Linked DNA regions of Homo sapiens. The protein of the gene in region 1 purifies or fractionates together with the protein of each later gene. This does not show direct contact. Each region holds a gene or a part of one and is shown in the gene's direction. Other genes may lie near its edges.

The links. The genes of interacting proteins can lie anywhere in the genome.
Region 2: the proteins of SOS2 (region 1) and SNX9 purify together in Homo sapiens (co-immunoprecipitation; one study listed by IntAct). This does not show direct contact.
Region 3: the proteins of SOS2 (region 1) and EVI5L purify together in Homo sapiens (affinity purification with mass spectrometry; one large-scale study listed by BioGRID and IntAct). This does not show direct contact.
Region 4: the proteins of SOS2 (region 1) and ZC3H14 purify together in Homo sapiens (affinity purification with mass spectrometry, with the first as the bait; one large-scale study listed by BioGRID). This does not show direct contact.

Annotation. Positions count from the first base shown.
Region 1 is NC_000014.9:50,162,079-50,165,578, reverse strand, and holds part of SOS2 (son of sevenless homolog 2), read left to right. Parts: intron 1-3,500.
Region 2 is NC_000006.12:157,829,746-157,833,245, forward strand, and holds part of SNX9 (sorting nexin-9), read left to right. Parts: intron 1-3,500. UniProt on the Homo sapiens protein: Involved in endocytosis and intracellular vesicle trafficking, both during interphase and at the end of mitosis. Required for efficient progress through mitosis and cytokinesis. Required for normal formation of the cleavage furrow at the end of mitosis.
Region 3 is NC_000019.10:7,836,718-7,840,217, forward strand, and holds part of EVI5L (EVI5-like protein), read left to right. Parts: intron 1-3,500. UniProt on the Homo sapiens protein: Functions as a GTPase-activating protein (GAP) with a broad specificity.
Region 4 is NC_000014.9:88,573,037-88,576,536, forward strand, and holds part of ZC3H14 (zinc finger CCCH domain-containing protein 14), read left to right. Parts: intron 1-1,656; coding exon 1,657-1,817; intron 1,818-2,803; coding exon 2,804-2,904; intron 2,905-3,500. UniProt on the Homo sapiens protein: RNA-binding protein involved in the biogenesis of circular RNAs (circRNAs), which are produced by back-splicing circularization of pre-mRNAs.

The DNA of each region.
Region 1 (3,500 bases):
CCTAATAGAGGTAGTACTATGAGATCAATGAAGCAGGAGTTACTAGCTCTGCTTAGGGAAGGCAGAAAAAAATTCCTATTGATTTTTCCTTTGTTCAGTGGAGTAAAAAAAAATACATAATGGTTTTGGGTATTCGTCCTACTGAGAGAGAGAACAGTGTGTGCGCGGGTGTGTGTGTCCTTATTTATTTGCGGGAGTCATGAAAGACAAATGCTTAGGAACTCTCCAGAATAAAAGAGACAATAGAAACATGACAATTTAGTGCTTCACTGACCAGTTCCTGTTTTGGGGGAAAATATTACCTTAAAGGATGTTATTAAAACAGTTGGCAAAATTGGAATATACACTATAGATTAGATTATGCAGTAGATTACTCGGTGTTAAATTTCCTGAAGTTGATCACTATACTGTGATTCTGTAAAAGAAAATCCTTGTTGTAAGATGAGCTATGAGAAATATTAAAGGAGTAAAGGAGAATGATACTATTTGAGAGTAATTTGTGATACATTTGACTTTTCCTTATATTCCAAAAACTACTGCAAAACCATTCAGCCGTAGTCCCCCTTCCTCTGGAAGGAACTGAGTGGATAGTATCACAACTACTAAAAAAACGATCTGCACACACTGGCACACAGAATGATGAAGCATGTGACAAAATGTTAAAAATTGGTGATTCAGAGTATTACAGGAGTTATTTGTGTTACTTTTACAACTTTTCTATAAATTTGATATTTCAAAAGAAAAAATTTAAGAGGGAAAAGGCATAATCAGAAGGCATCTTCAAGAGGAAGCATTTCAACTGTATCCTAGTGGCTAAATTCACCGGGTGGATAAGGAGGTCAGAGACTGTTGTGTAGAAAGCGAATGGGGGCATGAAAGTACATTACTTGTTTGCACATAGTTCAGTACAGTAATTTTTCTTTTCTTTTTCTTTCTTTTTTTTTTTTGGAGACAGAATCTCGCCTTATCACCCAGGCTGGAGTGCAGTGGTGCTATCTTGGCTTACTGCAATCTCCACCTCCTAGGTTCAAGTGATTCTCATGCCTCAGCCTCCTGAGTAGCTGGGATTACAGGCATGCACCACCACGTCCAGCTAATTTTTTTTTGTATTTTTTATTTTTATTTTCATTTTTTTGCGGGGGACAGAGTCTCACTCTGTCACCCAGACTGGAGTGTAATGGCACAATCTCAGCTCACTGTATTCTCTACCTCCCATGCTTAGGTCATCCTCTCACCTCAGCCTCCCAAATAGCTGGGACTACATGTGCACATCACCACGCCCGGCTAATTTTTGTATTTTTTGTAGAGACAAGGTTTCTCCGTGTGGTCAGGCTGGTCTTGAACTCCTGGGCTCAAGTGATCTGCCCGCCTTGGCCTCCCAGTATGTTGGGATTACAAGTGTGAGCCACCTTGCCTGGCCCAGTAATTTCTGTGTAAGATGTTTGGAACACATTCTTTTAAGTATCTGTAGAATATTAGTTGGATATTCATTAATATGATGTTTATCAAATCTCACTGCTGAAAATTCAAGAAATATTTAGCAAATTATCAGATTATTATGCCAAACAGAGCCGTTGTTTAATATACTTCCATTACCAGGAAATCCCACTCTAAATATCCTCAATTTTGTTCTCCTTTACAGCTTATAATTATTACATGGTTATTTAAAAATGACACGTGGAAGAGTTTGAGCAGCCTTAAGACCAAGTAGACAATGAAAATCATACCTTTTTGGTAGGATATCACTACTGGTGATAATTTAGATATTTGGATAAACAAAAACAAGAATAAAACAGTTCTAATTAAGTGTTTGATGTCATCAACATTCATATTTATTAAAGAAATATTTTAGAGTGGAGCTGAGAAGACTTTCTGTAAGAAATCTTTAAAGCAGCAAAATAAGTGATTTTGCCAGTAACTTTCACCTGTAGAAGTCAGAATAACCAAGCACAGATCTTTTTTCAAACTTTCTATGATATTTTGACTTTGCTTCCATCCTTTCTATTGCTTAGTCTAGAGATTAAGGTATTACTTCTAATAATAGTCATTTACATTATTTATGTTGCTAATCTCTTGATGACAAGACCTCTACATGTGTCTTGAAATAAAATCAAATGGCTCTGTGCTTCATATAGAGACTAATTTCTAAGACATAAATAAAAGGTAATGGACAAAGTTGTCAAACAATAGCCAGTTAGTTCTTTGCTGAGGAAAGGGAACCATTGCTGAATGCTTTTGAGATTGCTCTTGGAATATAAGGAAAATTTTAATTTATCACAAAATCTCTAATAAGTTAAAGATCACAAAATAGATTTAAGTTTTTAAAAATTTTCTGAAGTGATCATAATTCCCCATATCCTTGCATAAATATATATTTATAAATACATAATATATATAATATCTATATGATGTTCCACTTTGAACTCTTCTTTCAAAAGATTAAAACAGTTTGAGGGCAGCCTGGGCAGCATAGTGAGACCCCATCTCTACAGAAAAATTAAAAAAAAAAATTAGCCAAGCATGGTGGCACACATCTGTAGTTCTAGCTACTTGGGAGGCTGAGATGGAAGGATCACTTGAGTCCAGGAGGTTGAGGCAAGGCTGCAGTGAGCCATGATCACCTCACCGTATTCCAGTTTGGGTGACAGAGTGAGACCCTGTCTCAAAAAAAAAAAAAAAAATCAAAACATTGGAGCACAATACAATACAATCTGAATTATTTATTATAAGTAAATTTGCTTTCTTTCTGAGAGTGAAATACAAGAGAACATTTTGGGGCAAATGAAATAGAACCAGAGTTTTAGAGATTAATAAGTCAGTTTCTAAATCTTCTAAAGATTGAGATAGAATTAATTTTCATGGTTTCTTGACATTTCATATTGTAAAAAATAGCAGTGGAATCCTTTGAGAGATGCTGTTTACGGAAAAGTTTATGATAGATTGAAGTGTTAAAAGTTAGTACCCTTGATTATGTTATATAACAAAGATTTGTAAACTTGAAATTGCTAAAACAAAGTAATCATTAGAGAATATGAAATAGTTTATAGTTACTTATTTTCTCTATTCATAGTTGCTAATGAATAAAAGTAAGTTGTAAGCTTCATGCTTTAGGTGTTTTAAACTTTTTAAATATGTTTGGAAAATGTGGCCTGGCACAGTGGCTCACACTTGTAATTTCAACACTTTGGGAGGCAGAGATGGGAGGATAGCTTGAGTCCAGGAGTTTGGGACCAGCCTAGTGAGACCCTATCTCTACAAAAAATAAAAATAAAAAAATTAGCTGGATGTGGTGGCATGCAACTGTGGTCCCAGCTACTCGGGAAGCCTTATGCCCAGGAGATCGAGGCTGCAGTTAGCCCTGCCACTGTATTCCACCCTTGGTGACGGAGTGAGTAAGACCCTGTCTCAAAAAAATAAAAAATAAAAATAAAATGTCCGAATGGTTTTTACAGTTGCTTTTTTTTTTCCTGATTACTATGCTCATGTTAGTTTATATCTGT
Region 2 (3,500 bases), on another chromosome or scaffold:
ATGTGATTTCACTAGCTTTTGGTAAATATTTCCCAGATATATAAAAGCCAATAGCTGAATTTTACCTTTTTATCCAGTCTGATCTTGGTGCCTGCCTGTACAGCATTGTGTTTACTGATATATTTGGATTTCTGTCTACCATCTTATAGATTGTAGGAGCCCACTCCCAACTTTGTGGAAGGTTTGTGTTATAAGTCTCTTTTTTCCAGTGGTTATCATAAGGATGTTAACATTAAAGTCTGAAATTACTTAATATCATTAGCCTTTTCCTGAATTACAAAAAGACATAAGGTTATTTAACTCCAGTCATCTCCCCCAATATGATCAATTATTGCCCAGTATTTTAGTTATATCTTTTTCACCACAAATTGAACATTATTTTTATACAGTTAAATGTTTTAGATCTAATCATATTGTACTGTGTCTTTGCTTACTGTTTCTTCTTACATTTCAGTCTTTTCTTGAGATAATTTCCCTTCCATCTAAAATGAATTGGAATTTCCATTGAGAAGGTATGTTGTTGGTAAATCTCTTATATGTCTCTTAGGTATGAAAATTACCCTGGTCTTGAAAGAGTTCTAGGTTGACAGCATTTTCTCCTAGTACAATGAAGGTATTCTTCCTTTGTTTTCTACTGGCTTTGACATTTGCTGCTGGGAAGCCAGTTAGCTAATTATTGTTCCTTTGTCCGTGGTGTGACTCCTCACTGGCTGTTTTTAACTTTCTCAGTTTTAGTATTTTGCAGTTTGACTGTAGTGTGTCCATGTGTGGATTTTAGTTGCACAGCTTGGGTTTCCTGGGTATCTTGGATCTGAGGACAGGTGCTACGTTAGTTCTAGAACAGTGCTGTTCAGTGTACTCTTTGTGATGATGTTCTACATCTGTGCCGTCCATATGGTAACTGCCTGCCTCTTGTGGCTAACAAGAACTTGAAATGTGGTTAGTGTGACTGAGGAACTGTGTTTAAATTTTAATTTCAGTAGCCACATGTGGCTAATGGCTACTTTATAGGTGAGTGCAGCTCTAGAAAATTCTCAGCGGTTATTCATGAAAATTGCCTTTTCTCCATTCTTTCTTTCTGGAACTCTAGTAACATGAAAAGGACCGATGGAAATCTAACTTCCCATCTGTCAACCTGTCATGTTTTCTTTGTGCTACATTCTGGATGATTTCATTTGTTCTTACCTTCTGTTCACTATTCTTTCCTCAGTCAGGCCAAATCTGCTCTTTTATTCATCCATTTAATTTTCAGTTTCGGTTATCTTCTATTTTTAGAAATTGTATTTGGTTCTATTTCAAATCTGCTTATCATTCATTATAGTTTCTGGTTCTTTGCTCATATTTTTAAGCTTCTCTTAAGCATGTCAAAACATTAATAGTTTTCCGTCCTAATCTCAGAAGTCTGATTCAGCCATCCGTTTCTGCACATTCTCACTCATGGTGCTTTGTTTTCTTGTGTGTTTTGTGATTTGATTTGATTTTTCCTTGAGTTGCTTGTTTTCCTTGGAACTTCCTCTGTGGGAATCCTATTACCTAGATTGAGGTTGTATCCTTCCAGGGAGGATTTGTGTGTGCTGATACCAGTCTCCTGGGGACATTACATCCTTGGAGTCACTATATCTTTAATTCCTGGCTTAATGTTTTCTCAGCCATACTGGGTAGAATAAATATGGACCTGGCATCTCAGGAGAAATTTTCCTCATCCCCACTACTCTGTATCAATGATGAGACATTTCCTTGCACACAGGTTTTCCTCTTTACCCTTATGCTGAGGTCCTTTTGGAGTCCCAGCTTGTAGCTTAATACAGGACACTTTGTGTGTTGCCTCCCCTGCCCCCACACAGTCCCCAGAGCACAGAGCCAGGCTCCCAGGTTTGTGGAGTCTCCCAGCGGGAAATCCTGCCTCAGCACATGTGTTCTCCCAGGGTTTCTGCTTTCACTTCCTTTGTGGCCTCTCCGGAGCCTTTCCTTTTGTGCTAACTCAGCAGTGTGTTTCAAAAGGTGTTTAGTTTGTATCTTTTGCTTTTAATATTTTATTCAGCACTTCAGTTGTTTCAGTCTGGCAGTGGCTCAGGTATTAGCTTGCTCTAGTTGCTGGAACAAAATCCAAGTCAGAGCATCTTTATAGCAGACTGTCAAGTGAAGGGAGTGGAATATGTGCATGAAAGTGTTAATCTGATCTTTGCAGAGGGAAAGGTCAAAAAGTTGTTAAGCATTTTGGTTGAAACCAAACCTTCAGTCAAGCTGTCAAACTGTGGGCATTTCAAAACTTTCCAATTGATATTTCTTTGTCATTTTTCTTTTGACTATTAAAAGCACATGATAGACTACTTACTAATTTCTAGGCATTGTAAATGCAGTGTTTAAGGATGCTATTCAGTCTGACTGAATTTTTCTAAGTTATTTGTAGTATCTGAAAATCGAGTCATATGGTATTATTACCCACAGGGACAGTACTCAGAAGTCACAGATTTGTGATTGTTCATTAAGTCAGACACTTAACTTTAGGGATAAATTAAAGAGGGGGAAATGCAGCTTCATTCTGTTGCCTATCACCCGTTGTCATCCACAACTCATTCATTTGAACTTCAGATGTGCCAGGTCCTCTGGGATGTCAGTATGAAAGGCCTGTCCTTGTACTCAAAGGGCACAATGTCTTGAAGGAGGGCAGGCTGTCTGCAGGGGCACAGTGCAGGCTCCTGGCACAGTTCCTCAAGCCCAGAGGCTTTCAAAGGACCCAAGTCTTGAAATGTCTGTGTATTAGTCTGTTCTCATGCTGCTATGAAGAAATACCCGAGGCTAGGTAATTTATAAAGAAAAGAGATTTAAATGACTCACAGTTCCAAAGGGCTGGAGAGGCCTCAGGAAGCTTACAAATCCATGGTGGAAGGGGAAGCAAACATGTCCTTCTTCACATGGCAGCAGGAAGAAGTGCCGAGCAAAAGGGGGAAAACCCTTATAAAACCATCAGATCTTGTGAGAATTCATGAGAACAGCATGGGGGTAACTGCCCCCATGATTCAATTACCCCCACCAGGTGCCTCCCACAACATGTGGGGATTATGGGAACTACAATTCAAGATGAGATCTGGGGAGACACAGCCAAACCATATCAGTCTGTTACTTAGTACTTTGAGTGAGTTTTAAACCTTACTCTATCACTTCAGTTGCTTCAAAAATACTTCCATAGTACAGCTCCACAGTCTGCAAGTCCAGACTTTGCCTTGTCAGATCCCAGATATTCAGTTCAGCAGACATTTCAGTAGCTATTTTGTGCCACTTGGATGCTGGGAATAAAGATTTGGATCCTCCCTAGGACAGTTGACATTCAGATATTAATGAATTGGTGTATTTAAAATGTGCGAGTTTAAATGTATTTCCTAATTTAAATTCACAGAAAAAGGCTTGAAAATTTAGACGTATGTATAAATAGTTGCCTATTGCATAGTGGCTGCACATAAGAAGTTTTTTTATGTTTTAGTTTGTTTTATAGTCTCAAG
Region 3 (3,500 bases), on another chromosome or scaffold:
AACCTCTGCCTCCTGGGTTCAGCCTCAGGAGTAGCTGGGATTATAGCCATGCGCCACTACACCTAGCTAATTTTGTATGTGTGTGTGTATTTTTAATAGAGACAGGGTTTCACCATGTTGGCCAGGCTGGTCTCGAACTCCTGACCTCAAGTGATCTGCCCCCCCTCAGCCTCCCACAGTGCTGGGATTACAGACATGAGCCACCGCACCCAGCCTTTATTATTATTTTTAAAATAGACTTGGGCTGAGGCAGGAGGATCCCCTGTGGCCAGGAGTTCAAGACCAGCCTGGGCAGCAGAGTGAGACCCCTGTCTCAAAAATAAAATAAAATGGCCAGTTGTGGTGGCTCACGCCTGTAATCCCAGCACTTTGGGAGGCTGAGGCGGGCGGATCACCTGAGGTCAGGAGTTCAAAACCAGCCTGGCCAACATGGTGAAACCCCATCTCTACTAAAAATACAGAAATTAGCCGGGCGTGGTGGTGCGCACCTGTAATCCCAGCTACTTGGGAGGCTGAGGCAGGAGAATCACTTGAACCTGGGAGGTGGAGGTTGCAGTGAGCCGAGATCACACCACTGCACTCCAGCCTGGGCAACAGGAGTGAAACTCCTTCTCAAAAAATAAAAAATAAATAAAATAAAATAAGACTATTTTGTAGAACACTTTGAGATTTATGGAACAATTGAGAAGACGATACAGAGTTTCCATATGCCCCATACCCAGTCTCCTCTATAGTTAATGTCTTCCATTCATATGATACATTTGTTGTAGTTAATGGGCCAGTATTGATATATTATTATTAACTAAAGTCCACCTTTCATTCAGATTTCCTTTGTTTTTTCCCAGTAACCTTCTTCCATCCCAGGATCCCACATGACATTTAGTCGTCATGTCTCCCTAACCTCCTCTGGGCTGTGACAGTTTCTCAGACTTTCCTTGCTTTTCGTGACCTTGACGTTTTTGTTTGTTTGGTTTGGTTTGGTTTTTGTTTTTTGTTTTTTGAGATGGAGTTTCGCTCTTGTTGCCCAGGGTGGAGTGCAATTGTGGTGCAGTCTCGGCTCACCACAACCTCTGCCTCCTGGGTTCAAGCGATTCTCCTGCCTCAGCCTCCCAAGTAGCTGGGATTGCAGGCATGTGCCACCACGCCCGGCTAATTTTGTATTTTTAGTAGAGACAGGGTTTCTCCATGTTGGTTAGGCTGGTCTCGAACCCCTGACCTCAGGCGATCTGCCTGCCTCAGCCTCCCGAAGTGCTGGGATTACAGGTGTGAGCCCCCATGCCCGGCCAACCTTGACGGTTTTGAGGAAGGTGGAGTAGGTGTTGTGTAGAATGTCCTCTAATACTGATCTGTCTGGTGTGTTTATTTTTTTTTTGGTTGGTTTTTTTTTGTTTTGTTTTGTTTTGTTTTTTGAGACGGAGTCTCGCTCTGTCACCCAGGCTGGAGTGCAGTCGTGCAATCTCGGCTCACTGCAACTTCCGCCTCCTGGGTTCATGCCATTCCCCTGCCTCAGCCTCCTGAGTAGCTCAGATTACAGGCATGTGCCACCACGCCCAGCAAATTTTTTTGTATCTTTAGTAGAGACAGGGTTTCATCATGTTGGCCAGGCTGGTCTCAAACTCCTGACCTCAAGTGATCCGCCGGCCTTGGCCTCCCAAAGTGCTGGGATTACAGGTGTCAGCCACCATGCCCAGCCACTCTGGTGTTTCTCATGGTTAGACTGGGGTCTTGGGGAGGAAGACCACAGGGGTGAAGGGTCCTTTCTGTCACATCCTATCAAGGGTACGTGTTAGCCACGTAACTTATCACTGTTGATGTTGACCTTGATCACCTGCCTAAGCGACATGGAAAGTTTCATCTTCATTTATTCAACAAACGTTTGTCGAGCATGTACTGAATGCCAGATAGTGCATTAGGGGCTTGGAATAGAGAATTAAGAAGAGAGGCTCTTGTCCTCAAATCGTGCATGACCCTAGGGCAGGCAGGCAGGCAGGTTTAGAAATAATTGCCATAGAATGTGCATTGGGCTTGGGTGTAGGCAGAGGGGTGGATGTTTTCAGGGAGAGAGAGGGGGAAAAGCGAGCCAGGATGCTGGAAGAAGGGAGGTTGACAGAGAAGTTTTCACAGAAAGAATGGCCAAACCGGCCAGGCACAGTCCCAGCACTTTGAGGAGCCGAGGCGGGAAGATTACTTGAACCCAGGAGGTCAAGTCTGCAGTGAACAGTGAGCTATGATCATACCAGTGCACTCCAGCCTGGGAGACAGAGCAAAACCCTGTCTCTAAAAAGAAAAAAAAAAAAATCCTTGGCCAGGCACGGTGGCTCACGCCTGTAATCTCAGAACTTTGGGAGGCCAATGCGGGCAGATCACAAGGTCAGGAGATCAAGACCATCCTGGGTAACACAGTGAAACCCCATCTCTACTAAAAAATACAAAAAATTAGCCAGGCGTGGCGGTGGGTGCCTGTAGTCCCAGCTACTCAGGAGGCTGAGGCAGGAGAATGGCGTGAACCCAGGAGGCGGAGCTTGCAGTGAGCCGAGATCGCGCCACTGCACTCCAGCCTGGGCGACAGAGCAAGACTCCATCCATCTAAAAAAAAAAAATCCAAACCGGGTCTTGGAGAATGCCCTTCCAGTCAGAGGGAACAGAGTATGCACAGACACTGGCAGACATCAGGAGACCCATGTGCCTGGAGGACTGAGTGTGCCAAGCAGGGATGCAGAAAGAGGCGAGGCTGGGAAGGGCATGCACGTCTTGCAAAGACATCTGGGCTCCATCTCACCATTGGGAGCTGCTAAAGGGTCTTAGGCAGGCAATGACGTGGCAAGAGCTGCAGTTCTGTATGGTTCTGGTGGCCCCATGGACAGAGCATCAGAAAGGACAGAAAGTTCAATGGACGTGGCAGGCGCCATCAAGACAGCAGCTTTGGTGGGGCACGGTGGCTCACACCTGTGATCCCAGCACTCTGGGAGGCTGAGGCAGGAGCATCACTTGAAGCCAGGAGTTCAAGAGCAGCCTGGGCAACATAGTGAGACCCCAAGTCTCCAAAATTAGAAAAATTGGCAAGGCATGGTGGCGAATATCTGTGGTCCCAGATACTCAGGAGGCTGAGGTGGGAGGATCACTTGAGGCCAGGATCTCGCACCACTGCACTCCAGCCTGGGAAACAGAGCAAGACCTTGTCTCTAAAAGCAACAACAACAACAAAAAGACAGCAGCTTCCAGCCTGGAGAGCAGAGGCCAGTTGGGAGTGAGGTGTGGGATGTGGGTGGTAGACTTGGCTGAGCTCTAGAACATGAGAAGGGAGGAGGGGAACACCCAGGCCTGGCCAGAGTGGGTGGGTGGAGGTGGCAGGTGGCACCGGGGACCCAGATAGATGCACCCGCAGTAGGACAAGGGGCCTGCTTCTGTCAGGAAAGCATTGAATTTGAAGAGCATCTCCGCATGAGGGGCCAGAAGGGTCTTTCTAAAATGCAAACCTAGGCCACGGGCAGTGGCTCACG
Region 4 (3,500 bases), about 38 Mb from region 1:
GGCTAAAAATCGGCAGTTCTTGATACCAAATAATATATGAAGTAACTAAACACATATTCCAAGGCTGGGCACAGTGGCTCACACCTGTAATCCCAGGACTTTGGGAGGCCGAGGCGGGTGGATCACGAGGTCAGGAGATTGAGACCATCCTGGCTAACACGGTGAAACCCCGTCTCTACTAAAAATACAAAAAATTAGCCAGGCATGGTGGCAGGCGCCTGTAGTCCCAGCTACTCGGGAGGCTGAGGCAGGAGAATGGCGTGAACCTGGGAGGCGGAGCTTGCACTGAGCCAAGATCGTGCCACTGCACTCCAGCCTGGGCAACAGAGCGAGACTCCGTCTCAACCAAAAAAGAAAAAACAAAAAACAAAAAAAACACATATTCCAAATTTATTTTATTTTATTTTACTTTTTGAGAAGGAGTTTCACTCTTGTTGCCCAGGCTGGAGTGTGATGGCGCGATCTCAACTCACTGCAACCTCCACCTCCTGGGTTCAAGCGATTCTCCTGCTTCAGCCTCCCGAGTAGCTGGTATTACCCGCCACCATGCCTGGCTAATTTTTTGTATTTTTAGCAAAGACAGGGTTTCACCGTGTTGGCCAGGCTGGTCTTGAAATCCTGGCCCTGTGATCCACCCACCTTGATCTTGGCTCACTGCAACCTGTGCTTCCCAGGTTCAAGTGATTCTTCTGATTCAGCCTCCTGAATAGCTGGGATTACAGGTGTGTACTACCACGACCAGCTAATTTTTGTATTTTTAGTAGAGATGGTGTTTCACCATGTTGGACCAGGCTGGTCTTGAACTCCTGACCTCAGGTGATCTGCCCTCCTTGGCCTCCCAAAGTGTTGGGATTACAGGCATGTACCATGGCGCCTGGCCCCAAGTTTATTTTTAAATTGTTTTATCTGCTGTTTCTCATGCTATACCAGATTTTCTTCCCCATGGCTTGCTCCTAGAGTTCTTTTGTATCACATCTGTATACCTTTTTGGGATTTCCAGCATTTGAGATATTAATCTTAAATTAATTTGGGGGGTTTCAATCAATTTTAGATTGTTCATGGTAATTGCTAGTGAGCAACCAATTAACTCTGTTTTATTAGTTTCCTCAATAGCACTATATGCAGCTGTTGATAAAATAAATGTAAAGTTCTAATTTTTGTTTTAGCTAAAGGTTGACTGTTAGGGATAATATTTATATTTATAGTATTTATTTATTTATTTATTTTGATACGGTGTCTCACTCTGTCGCCCAGGCTGGAGTGCAGTGGCATGATCTTGGCTCCCTACATCCTCCACCTCCCGGGTTCAAGTGAGTCTTCTGCCTCAGCCTCCCGAGTAGCTCGGACTACAGGCACATGCCGCCACGCTCAGCTAATTTTTGTATTTTTATAGAGACAGGGTTTCACCATATTGGCCAGGCTGGTCTCGAAATCCTGACCTTGTGATCCGCCCACTTCGGCCTTCCAAAGTGCTAGGATTACAGATGTGAGCCACCACACCCAGCCTCATATTTATATTTTTACATAAAACCAAGAAATACTCTGTGAATTTCTCATATTACTGTGTACTGTTTTTTTCTTAAAATGGAAACATTTTGTGGTAGAACTCTTGTTATTTTCTGAGATTAGGTAAGCATAAATTTTATCTGATTGCAGGATGAAAACTTTCGGAAGAGAAAGTTGCCTGTGGTAAGTTCAGTTGTTAAAGTAAAAAAATTCAATCATGATGGAGAAGAGGAGGAAGAAGATGATGATTACGGGTCTCGAACAGGAAGCATCTCCAGCAGTGTGTCTGTGCCTGCAAAGCCTGAAAGGAGGTACCTTGAACATGGCTGTAAATTAATCTTTAACTGCCTTGGTGGAGTCTTCCTGATTTATTGAAGAGAATAATCACGAAAATAATTTTTGTTTGTTTTTTGAGACGGAGTCTCGCTCTGTCAACCAGGCTGGAGTGCAGTGCCACGATCTCGGCTCACTGCAACCTCTGCCTCCCAGGTTCAAGTGATTCTCCTGATTGAGCCTCCTGAATAGCTGGGATTATAGGTGTGCACTACCATGACCAGCTAATTTTTGTATTTTTAGTAGAGATGGTGTTTCACCATGTTGGACCAGGCTGGTCTCGAACTCCTGACCTCAGGTGATCTGCCCTCCTCAGCTTCCCAAAGTGTTGGGATTACAGGCATGAGCCACCGCACCTGACATAAATATTTAATGTAATACCGTGTAAGACTTTTCCATTGGGTTTTGAGAAACACGTTAATGAGAGAAATTGCTTAACATTGGAGAGGATTGCAGAGAATATTGACTAATATGGTGGGGTGAGGAGGAACAACATCAATTAAGATTCAGATTTATTATTTAAAAAAACTAAAAGGGGCCTAGGCATGGTGGCTCATGCCTGTACCTAGCACTTTGGGAGGCTGAGGCAGGAGGATTGCTTGAGACCAGGAGTTCGAGACCAGCCTGGGCGATGTAATGAGTCTTTGTCTCTTAAAAAAAATTAAAATAAATTAGTTGGTCATTGTGGCAGGCACCTGTAGTCCTGGACTGGAGAGGTGGATGTGGAAGCATTGCTTGAGCCTAGAAGTTTAAGGCTGCAGTGACATCACACTCCATCCTGGGTGAGAGAGTAAGAGTCTGTCTAAAAAAAAAAATAAGGTTCCAGTGTAGTTGGCATTTTCTAAAAACTGCAGCTAGTCTGTTTAAAACCTAGAGAAGGTTGTGGTAAAGGCATAATAGATGGCTGGCCTGTGAGGAACTGAAATTTAAAGTTTAATAAAAATACCTTTCTTAACTCTTTTAGACCTTCTCTTCCACCTTCTAAACAAGCTAACAAGAATCTGATTTTGAAGGCTATATCTGAAGCTCAAGAATCCGTAACAAAAACAACTAACTACTCTACAGGTAATTTAAATGTATTATGTTTACACTTGGTAAGACATTTCTGTAATTCTTGAGTAAGGTGAAAATGATTGCTCCTTAAATTGTAAAATAAAGGTGCCTGTCAGATGTCAAGACCAAGATGAGGTTCCCATATAGAAAAATGGCTTTAAAAGGAAATTGACAAGTTTGAGAAACTTCGCCAACTGTTATTGGACTGTAGTTTTTCAAGCACCATATAATGCCTTTTATATCTTTCCAATGTGTGTAAAATATATAGTACGTAAATATTTTGAAGAGAATTTTGATGAAGTAGGACTTTCATATTAGTAGCATTAGATTCAACATTAGATATGAATTTACGATGTGTAAAGGGGAGTACAATTGGACAATGATAGGTATCTGAAGTTATAGAAATTTGTTAAACAGTAGTATATAAACAAGGTTGGTTTCTTCCCTTTTGGCGGAACTCATTAGTAGAATATAAGGCAGAGAATTGACTCATTTGTGATGTTCCTGCTCCAATTCTAGTGGAAGTACTGAATAATTTTATGAGAGAATATAAAAGTATTACGTTTTCAAAACAGGAGATGAATCAGCTGTAAGCTGGTCTTACGGAA